3 linked regions of the Homo sapiens genome follow. The protein of the gene in region 2 purifies or fractionates together with the protein of the main gene of each other region. This does not show direct contact. Each region holds a gene or a part of one and is shown on either strand. Other genes may lie near its edges.

Evidence for each region.
Region 1: the proteins of SYK (region 2) and HADHB purify together in Homo sapiens (affinity purification with mass spectrometry; one large-scale study listed by BioGRID and IntAct). This does not show direct contact.
Region 3: the proteins of SYK (region 2) and CTCF purify together in Homo sapiens (affinity purification with mass spectrometry; one large-scale study listed by BioGRID and IntAct). This does not show direct contact.

Annotation. Positions count from the first base shown.
Region 1 is NC_000002.12:26,251,209-26,254,938, reverse strand, and holds part of HADHB (trifunctional enzyme subunit beta, mitochondrial isoform 1 precursor), read right to left. Parts: intron 693-3,730; 5' UTR 685-692; coding exon 621-684; intron 510-620; coding exon 465-509; intron 1-464. UniProt on the Homo sapiens protein: Mitochondrial trifunctional enzyme catalyzes the last three of the four reactions of the mitochondrial beta-oxidation pathway.
Region 2 is NC_000009.12:90,808,154-90,811,883, reverse strand, and holds part of SYK (tyrosine-protein kinase SYK), read right to left. Parts: intron 1-3,730. UniProt on the Homo sapiens protein: Non-receptor tyrosine kinase which mediates signal transduction downstream of a variety of transmembrane receptors including classical immunoreceptors like the B-cell receptor (BCR).
Region 3 is NC_000016.10:67,625,026-67,628,525, forward strand, and holds part of CTCF (transcriptional repressor CTCF), read left to right. Parts: intron 1-1,529; coding exon 1,530-1,690; intron 1,691-3,344; coding exon 3,345-3,500.

The sequences.
Region 1 (3,730 bases), on a different chromosome or scaffold from region 2:
TATTAACTAGTTCCTAATCACTTCTATTTCAGGAATGGGCCCTCTTGCACATGGGAGAAGAAGATATTCATCAATAGAGAAGCATTTCACAAATTGCAAATTTAAAGTTAACTTTTGGTTCCATAGCAGGTCTCAAGAGCATTTGTATGCCATTCACCTCCAGGACGGACAGCAAGAGGATAAATAAACTGACCAACGAGGTTTATGGAACCTCCATGACTCCAGCAGGTTCAAATCCCAGAAAACAGCCTCCCATTAACATCCTCAAGCCTAATCCTAAATAATGTAGTATCATTATTGATTGGACCTATAATTTTTTAATTTGAAGGCAACAGAGATGTTCATGTGCTCATAAAAAGGGGAGAATTAGCAAATTAGTTTTGGTTTTTATTCAGAGTTCACAAACTATAGAATCTGGAATCTAACATTTAAATCAGAAATATTTATTTTACAAATTACTGTACCTGGGGCAGCTCGTAGCTGGGAGGAACAGCTCAGAGGTCTTATGGCTGGAAGACAAAATAAACTGTTTACAAAAAGCAATACCATTCAGTATCTGTGCGAGATGTTTATAAATCCAAATCCAATCTCTAAAAATAAAAAAATAATAATAAACTTACAAAATCTGAGGGCCCATTTTGATGCAGTGGGAAGATTTTTAAAGGGGTAAGTCAAGATAGTCATTCTGGAATCTAAAAAGAGAAGAACAAAAGTATATCCTGGATTAGCTGAACAATTTGTAGTTTACATTGTAGTCTATGAACTCTGATAACCTCATCCATGGCTACTAGAAAACATTAAAACTTAATCTTATCAACTATTCTTCATCTAATAATATTATTATGATAGGAACACCAACATGGTTTTCACATTGCAGCAACCACTATTCTAAGCATTAACCATCTAATCTTCACAATGACCTACAAAGGAGGCATGATTATTACATCCTTTGTAAGAGATAAGGAAATTGAGGCATAGTAGGATTGAGTGACTTGCCAAAAGACCTACAACTAGTGAGTGGCAGAGCTGGAATTTTTATTTATTTATTTATTTATTTATTTATTTATTTATTTATTTATTTTTTTGAGATGGAGTTTTGCTCTTGTTGCCCAGGCTGGAGTACAGTGGTGCAATCTCGGTTCACTGCAATCTTTGCCTCCCAGGTTCAGTCGATTCTCCTGCCTCAGCCTCCCGAGTAGCTGGGATTACAGGCACGTGCCACCACACCCGGCTAATTTTTTGTATTTTTAGTAGACATGGGGTTTTGCCATGTTGGCCAGGCTGGTGTCGAACTCCTGACCTCAGGTGATCCATCGCCTTGGCCTCCCAAAGTGCTGGGATTACAGGCGTGAGCTACCGCACCAGGCCCAGAGCTGGAATTTGAACCTAGGAAGTCTACCTCTAGAGTGTGTGCTCCTCTCCTTTAGGGTCAAAGAAGCAGAGAGACTGCTAGGCGTGATAATAAAACCATTAGTATTAGTTTCACGATTCTGAAGGCTGTACTATGATTATGTAGAAGGCTTTGTGGAATGTTTGTATCTGAAGGGAATATACACTAAATAGGGATGGTGAAGCATCATGTCAGCAACTTAATCTCAACTGCTACTAAAAAAAGTTTGTAGTACTGCACTTGCAACTTTTTCAAAGTTTGATACTGTATTGTTTCAAAACAATAAAAAAGTAAAACATATAATAACCCTATATGTTAAAAAATATGTAAAATATATTAACAACTTTCCCCCACCCCTCCAAAAAAGACTAAATTTCTAACAATGAGTTCCTACAGATTACTAAGGAAAACACTAGCAGACAAATAGGCACAGAATATGAACAGACCACAGAAAAGGAAATACAAATGGTTCTTAAGTATATGAAAAGATGTTCAATTTCACTCATAAGAAGAATTCAAATTAAAACCACAGATATAATTGTCTCTCAAAGTAGCAAAGATTCAAAGGTTTGATATATACTCTGTGTAGGTAAGAGTATGTGCAAATAGATATTCTCATATACTGCTGCCAAGAGAACTGGCACAGTCCATGGGGAGGGCAATTTGGTAATTATCCATGAAAACTATAACTGAAACTAATGTTTGAACCAGCAATTCCACTTCCATGAACTGACTTCATGGATATTACTCACACACAGGACATAATCCATATTGTTACTGTAATAGTCAAAAATTAGAATAACCAAAAAATAGGAAAATGGGTAAGTAAACCATGCTACAACACCCCTGTGAAATACTATGCAGCTGTAAAAGGTAAGGAAATGATTATGCACCAATTCGGAACCATTTTAAGCTGTATCATTAAGTGAAGAAAGCAAGGTGCAAAATAGCTGTACAGCATGCTATCATTCATGTTAAAAGAGGAAAAATATTATGTACATTTCCTTGTATCAGTATAAAATCCCCCTGGAAGTATAATAAAGATGTTAAAAATAATTGTTGGCTGGAAGAAAGGGAACTGGGTAACTAGGGGTCAGGGGTGGAAGACTTGTCATCACACACCTTTTATAATTTCTTAATTTTGAAGCATGTTTTAACAACAACAACAAAAAATCAAAACCAAAAAAATCCCACAAGATTTACCAACAAAGACTTTGGTAGCCAGCCTCCAAGTTGCCCCCCAATAATCTCTACCTCTTGGTATTCACATCCTTGTCTAGCTGCCTCCCTCTCCATATCACAGAATGTATAAACCAAAAAGTATGTTACAAGTAATGGTATGCCACTTCTGAGATAGGCTATAAGAGATACTGCAGCATCTGTCGTGGTCTCTCTCTCAGCTCACCCACTATGAGAGAAGCCAGGTGGCATGTCCTGAGCAGCCTTATGAAGAGGCTCCTGTGGTGAGGAACTGATGCCTCTTGCCAACAGCCATGTGAGTGAGCTTGGAAGCGGAGCCTCTAGCGCAGGCAAGCTTTCAGCTGACTCCAGCCCTGCCAACATTCTGACAGCCACCTTATGGGAAACTCAGAGCAACCCAGCTAAAGTGCCCTTGATTCCTGACCTTCAGAAACTATGAGATGGTAAACATGTATTGTTTTAAACTGCTACATTTGGCGGTAATTGGCTACACAGAAATAGATAATACAAAAGCTTTAAGGTTTAACTTCTCTTGGGTCTTTAGAGACTAAAAGAAGGAGGTCCTATAGCTTCCGAAAAGAAAAAAACAAAACATGTTCCAAACATGTGGATTGGAAAGAGATGGAGAAGCCCAAGCTTTAGGATCACCAGCCTAGGGATATTCAAAGGACTCTGGCCAGAGAAACACAAAGAGGCCCATGAGAGAGGCACCACTCAGAAGCTACTTACAATGCCACAAGGGTCTGGGCTACAAGTTCCCTTACGTAAGGTTCATCTTGAAATAAAATTCATGAAAATTGTCAAGAAAATGTTGAAAAACAAAAGGGGGAACCTTGTTGCAACAGATAACAAAACTTTCTAGGCCAGGCACAGAGGCTCACACCTGTAATCCCAGCACTTTGGGAGGCCGAGGTGGGAGGATCACTTGAGCCCAGGAGTTTGAGACCAGCCTGGGCAACCTAGTGAGACCCTGTCTTTACAAAAAATACAAAAAACTAGCTGGGCATGGTGGCATGTGCCTGTAGTCGCAGCTACTCAAGAGGCTGAGGTGGGAGGAGCACCCGAGCCAGGAGTTCGAGGCTGCAGTGAGCCATGATCACGCTACTGTACTCAAGCCTGGGCAACAGAGTAAGATCCTGT
Region 2 (3,730 bases):
CATGATCTCAGCTCACTGCAGCCTTGACCTCTTGGACTCAAGTGATCCCCCCACCTCAGCGCCCCCATGTAGCTGGGACTACAGGTGCACACCACCAGTCCAGGCTAGTTTTTTTTTTTGGTATTTGTCATAGAGGTGGGGTTTTGCCATATTGCCCAGGCTGGCTTCAAACTCCTGAGCTCAAGCAATCCACCCACCTTGGCTTCCCAAAGTGCTGGAATTACAGGCATGAGTCATTGCACCCAACCCAGCATGAGTTTTTTAAACAAATACAATGATATGTTACATCTTGCTTTTTCACTAGTAGAACTTGGACATTGTTATATTTGGTGTATGAAATAAATTCCACATTTTTTAGAAGACTGCATAGGATTCCAACATATGAATCAACTGTACTTCCCTTAGTGATTTTTTTTTGCTATTATAAAATAAAATGTTGCAATGAATATTTCTCCACTTTTGTCAATTTATATGTGTGATAGGTTCCTAAAAGTGAAGTTGTTGAGTGAAAGCACTTGTGTTTTAAATTTTAAAAGATATTACCAAACGGCCCTGTCAGCACCCATCTGTGTCTTTTTTCTTATTGATTTGAAAAAACTCGCTGCATATTAAAGCTATTGATGCTTTACCACAAGTATTGAAATTAAATATATCTTACCATTTTTTTCACTTATTTGTATATTTTTTCATTTTATGGGGATTTGCTTAAAATTTTAGGAAATCATGCTTATCAATCTTGTGATGAGTGTGAATATAAATTCATATGTTTTATCACATTTAGACAGGCCTCTTCACAATTATTTTAAAACTCACCTAAGTTTTCTTTTAATAGCTTCATTATTTCAATGCTATATTTTTATTCTTTGTTCAGCTTGGAATTTATTTTGATATAAAGAGCAAAGTTTTGTTTTTTTTTCCAAACGATTTGCCGTTTTCCCAAGACCATTCATCCATGGCCCTGCACCTCCCCCGCCTGGTGTGCAAAGCCTCCCTTGGACCCATGCCTGCATATTATCTGGGTCTGGGCTCTACTCCCCACAGCAGCTTCACTTTACAATTTTGTGGAGTTTGTCTCCCTTAACACCTTTATCTTACATTTCTTCCCTGAGTCTTCTCATAAGTCTCTCTCTCTTTAAGTTTTTGCACATCTAAAGTGAAAGAAACACTTTACCGTAAGTATTTTAATGTGCTTAATTGTGTTTGGTCTTCACACTGACAGAGTTCTGGAATCATCTGTACAGCAGGCTCATTTCAGGGGCCTTAGACATCTGTCCATCTCCATATCTGGAGAGCTCCCTGGTGCTCTTGATGGCATCACAGAAAGGCCATCGTGGGGAGGTGCCAGTCTTCACTCACACATTTGTTACAGGTTGAATTGTGTCCCCCCAAGTTCAAATGTTGATGTCCTAACTCCCTAACCCCTCTGAGTGTGACCTTATTTAAAGACAGGGTCTTTACAGCAGTGATTACGCCCCATTGAAGTCCTTAGGGTGAGCCCTACTCCAACATGACTGGTGTCCTTACATGAAAAGGAGATCTGGACCCAGAGACAGGCACACAGGGAGCATGCCATGTGGAGCTGGAGATGGTCACCCACAAGCCAAGGAGATGCTGGGGGCACATTGTCCCACCCAACCCTTGGAAGGAGCCACCCTGGGACATCCTGACCTCAGTCTCTTTGGCTCAGAGTTGGGAGGCGACACATTGGGCTGTTCAAGCCGTTCAGTATGTGGTGCTTTGTTATGAAAGCCTGATCGGACTGATACTCCATTCCTCCATAACAGACACTGACACAGCTTCCAGAGTCTTCTGAGAAGAAACAAGCTCCGGGGAATACCTTACACACTGCTGGCTTCTTTGGGGAAATCATCCCTCACAAACGCTTGCCTTTCTAGCCTGAGCCCTTCTCCCCAGCTGCCAAGCTGCCTTTCCTTGACCAAATCATTGAAGTCCCACCTGCCTCACAAACATTTCCATAACAGGAGGGAAACGGGTCTGAGATCTGTCCACACCTGTCCACTCCCAACCCTCACGACAGCAACACAAGCAGAGAGCAGCAGTTCTGCCCCGTAGGGGGACAGCCACAGACATGGAGGTCTGATGTGGGAAGGACAGAGACACTCACAGCTAGGGGCTCGGCACTCACTTTCCACGAGGCTCTAGTTCACTCTGGATAGTAAATTTATCTCTATGGAAGGAAGGCATGCATAAAAGCTTCAGCTCTTCTCACTTGAGTCTCTCATTGGTTTGGGATTGTGTCTAATTCCTATTGTATATGCTTAACTTCTCAATGCAAAAGCCACAAAGATCAAAACAAGTTTTGTGTAACCATTGGTGATGAGTAAAATTGGCATGTCTGACACTGAGCCTGTGTCCTCCCTCTGCCTCTCCAGGCTTTCCTGAGCTGCTGACAGGACTCCAAACCTGCCCACCAATTAGGCAGGACAGCAGATCCTCTTTTACGCCTTATTAGAGTAGTGGATAGGGATTCTGGTTCTGGATTAGAAACACCTAGTTTTGAGAGTTCTAATCCCAGCAGCATCACTCAGTGGTTGGACAAATCCCTTCACCTTTCTGAGCCCGTTTCTAATCGGGTTGAATTAGATACTCTGCATATTTAAACAGGCTTCTAAGAATCTATGAATTTGGACCCTCGGTATCCTAATAAGCAGGACAGACTTCATGACAGAGCTACAAGATCACCAGCAGTGATTTGGGGAACCTAACGCCAAGGCCTGCGATGCAGCCTGCTCTAGCCAGGCTCTTCCTGAGCCCTCACTGTGAGTTCCTTCACGTAGCCATGACCATCAGCTGATTGGTGTTGTTAACCAAAAGGAAGTGGTGGCCTTCCACCTCAAGCATATGCACAGCTATAAATGCAGAGAAGGGGAAGAAACATGAAAAACAGTATTACAGAAAATGAAGTCATAGCACGCTGAGGATCTGAGGAGATGTTCCATGAGTAGCTTGGCAATGAATGCTCTCCTTGAAAGGCATGAAGCAGGTCAGGCTCACACTGAAGGGGGCAATCACAGTCCCCCTGTGCAGGCAGGCAGCAGTGTGGGGGGTGCAAGGTGGGAGAAGACCAAGGGTGGAGTGCCTTAGAAGCGACAGAGACCTGAGGGAGGAACAGGGAGGAGCGGGAGGACAAGGGAAGAGTAGATGCTCCCCAGCTCCAAGAAAGCAGCAGAAGACGCCTCGCAGGAAAAGACAGGTGTGTGGCTTCGTTTGAATAGGGAAGGCATGGCCATACCCACAAAGAACAGGGAGTTCCTGCCACCCACACACCACACAGACCAGTTATGGGCCCATCCTGCCCTGTGCACATCCAGGTCTTGCCCTCCTCCTATCTCATGTGGGACAGGCTGCAAGAATGCAGCCTTAAAAGACTAATGCCTAGGGTACCTAAAAAAAAAAAAAAACCAACACACACGTGGAAATACCCAGCACATCAGGAAAGCTGACAGCAGGAGAGAGAGGCACCAAGCATGCAAGCAGATGAACTGATACCCCGGGAGACGGGGGTAATGGTGCACTCAAACAAGTAATAAAATACACAGAAAACTAATACATCACTTAAAAAAATCCCAAAGAAGTAACTACATTCCTTGGAAATTAACCACCTGCTTGCTAAAATAATCATAGGAAAACTAAGTGGATGGACTGAAGAACAGGATGGACAGGGATGAAGGGCTTCCTTGAGATAAAGATTAACCTGATGGTTTCATGA
Region 3 (3,500 bases), on a different chromosome or scaffold from region 2:
ATGATTCTCCTTCCTCATTTTCCCGAGTAGCTGGGACCACAGGTGTACGCCACCATGCCTAGCTAATTTTTGTATTTTTCAGTAGAGACGGGTTTCACTATATGTTGGCCAGGCCAGGTCTCAAACTCCTGACCTCAGGTGATCCACCCACCTTTGCCTCCTAAAGTGCTGGGATTCTTTTTGAGATGGAGTCTTTGTCGCCCAGGCTAGAGTACAGTGCAGTAGCACAATCTTGGCTCACTGCAACCTCTGCCCCCCAGGTTCAAGCCATTTTCTTGCCTCAGCCTCCCGAGTAGCTGGGATTACAGGTTTACAGGCATACACCACCACGCCCAGCTAATTTTTGTACTTTTTAGTAGAGACAGAGTTTTGCCATGTTGGCCAGGCTGGTCTTGAACTCGTCACCTCAGGTGATCCACCTGCCATGGCCTCCCAAAGTGCTAGGATTACAGGCGTGAGCCACTGTGCCTGCCAACTCTTAGACTTCTCAAAGCATGACCCATTCTTTTTATTTTAATTCTACTTTTTGCCTTGGTGATCTTATCAGCTCCCATGGGCTCAAATTCTAACAACTCTTTGTGGCATTGGTGGTACAGTGATAAGCATAGCTGCTTTCAAATCCTAACAACTTGTACATTTATATTCCTACTCCAGATCTTTCTTTTGAGTTAGCCTTATATAACTGTGTATCCCTTGCCATCCCACCCCTGCTTTTATATCTCTGGCATTTCAAATTCAGCATGTCTAAAACTGAAGGTCTAAAACTTCTCTGTCCCCTATGCCCCCCCACCCCCCGACCCTGAAAATAACACATACAACTTGGTCTTAAGCCCTCTTCCACTATTCTTGTCTCAATAAATGACCCCAACAGCTACCTGGTTTTCCAGGCCTGATACCTACTTTATTCTTCACTCTCTACAGTCACTAAATCCTGTTGATTCAACTGCTTCCATCTCTCATCAGTTCTTCCCCTTCCATCCACACCCATTGTCATCACCCTTGTCCCAGCCACCATCTTCTCCCACCTATCCTGTTTGAACAATCTTAATTGTTCTCCCTGCACCTGTTACTCTGCCTTTTCATTCATTTTCTGTATAGCACCCAGAGTAATACTTAAGAATCAGGAGAAATGGGCTGGGCGCAGTGGCTCACACCTATAATTCCAGCATTTTGGGAGGCCGAGGCGGGCAGATCACGAGGTCAGGAGATTGAGACCATCCTGGCTAACATGATGAAACCCTGTCTCTACTAAAAATACAAAAATAAAAAATAAAAAAATTAGCCGGGCATGGTGGCGGGCGCCTGTAGTCCCAGCTACTCAGGAGGCTGAGGCGGGAGAATGGCATGAACCTGGGAAGTGGAGCTTGCAGTGAGCTGAGATTGCGCCACTGCACTCCAGCCTGGGTGACAGAGCAAGACTCCGTCTCAAAAAAAAAAAAAAAAAAAAAGAATCGAGAAATGTATTAGTAACTTGTTAAAATGCTTGTTTGTGTTTTCACATTACCCTGGGCTTTTTACTGTGCTTTCAGGTGTCCACTTGCGAAAGCAGCATTCCTATATTGAGCAAGGCAAGAAATGCCGTTACTGTGATGCTGTGTTTCATGAGCGCTATGCCCTCATCCAGCATCAGAAGTCACACAAGAATGAGAAGCGCTTTAAGTGTGACCAGTGTGATTACGCTTGTAGACAGGTAGGAACCTTCATTGAAAGTTGTTGGTGCTTTCTCGGTGTCTGGTGTTATCAGAGGGCATTTACATATCTAGTACAGTGGCTGTTTTTAAAGATAGTATTTTCAAACTGTGGATTATGAGGAATGTCACCAAAATCAAAGGTCATGCTCCTTGTCAATTGTGTCATCCCGGTGTCCAGATGATGTTTTATTCAGTCACAGCTTACCTCTTCCTTAAGCAGACATCTTTCTGAAAACTGTGGAAAGTAAGTCCAGGACTTGAGAGAGGGGAAGAATCTCATGCGGGGACATGACTGTTGGGAGGGAGCCAAAGAAGGAGCTCAGCAGGAATAAGCAGCTCTATCTGTGCTACAATTATGGAAGCAGTTGTGCACCACACTAAAAATACCTTTATCAAGCCGGGTGCAGTGGCTCACACCTGTAATCCTAGCACTTTGGGAGGCCGAGATAGGCAACAGAGAGAGACCCCATCTCTACAAAAAGAAAAAATTAGGGCCGGGCGCGGTGGCTCGAGCGCCTGTAATCCCAGCACTTTGGGAGGCTGAGGTGGGCGGATCACTTGAGGTCAGGAGCTTGAGAGCAGCCTGGCCAACACGGTGAAACCCCGCCTCTACTAAAAATACAAAAATTAGCCGGGCATGGTGATAGACGCCTGTAATCCCAGCTACTCTGGAAGCTGAGGCAGGAGAATCGCTTGAACCTGGGGCGGAGGTTGCATTGAGCCGCGATTGCGCCACTGCGCTCCAGCCTGGGTGGCAGAGCGAGACTCTGTCTCCAAAAGAAAAAGAAAAAATTAGCTGGGGCCAGGCACGGTGACTCACACCTGTAATCCCAGCACTTTGGGAAGCCAAGGCAGGCAGATCATTTGAGGTTGGGAGTTCAAGACCAGCCTGGCCAACCTGGTGAAATCCCATCTCTACTAAAAAAAAAAAACAAAAAAACACGAAGGTCGGCCGGGCGCGGTGGCTCACGCCTGTAATCCCAGCACTTTGGGAGGCCGAGGCAGGTGGATCACAAGGTCAGGAGATCAAGACCATCCTAGCTAACACAGTGAAACCCCGTCTGTACAAAAAATCAGCTGGGCGTGGTGGTGGGTGCCTGTAGTCCCAGCTACTCCGGAGGCTGAGGCAGGTGAATGGCATGAACCCAGTGAGCCGAGATTGCGCCACTGCACTCCAGCCTGGGCGACAGAGTGAGACTCCATCTCAAAAAAAAAAAAAAAAAAAAAAGTCAGCTGGGTGTGGTGGCAGGCACCTGTAATCGCAGCTACTCAAGAGGCTGAGGCAGGAGAATTGCTTGAATCCGGGAGGTGGAGGTTGCAGCGAGCCAAGATCGCGCCACTGCACTCCATCCTGGGCGATAGAGCGAGACTCCGTCTCAAAAAAAAAACAAAAAAAATTAGCCAGGCATGGTGGCTCATACCTATGGTCCCATTTTGAAGCTGCAGTAAGCCATGATCACACCACTGCTCTCCAGACTTTGCAACAGAGCAAGACCCTGTCTCTAAATATATAGCTTTATCATCTCAACAAGCCGTGTGGAGTCTAGACCTAGCTTGGGTGAGAAATACCTGTTGGCCACATGCATGCAGGTGGCAGCTGGGGCAGTAGCCCCATGAGCAGGCTCTGAGGCCTTTCCCCCTATGCCGTTTCAGGAGAGGCACATGATCATGCACAAGCGCACCCACACCGGGGAGAAGCCTTACGCCTGCAGCCACTGCGATAAGACCTTCCGCCAGAAGCAGCTTCTCGACATGCACTTCAAGCGCTATCACGACCCCAACTTCGTCCCTGCGGCTTTTGTCTGTTCT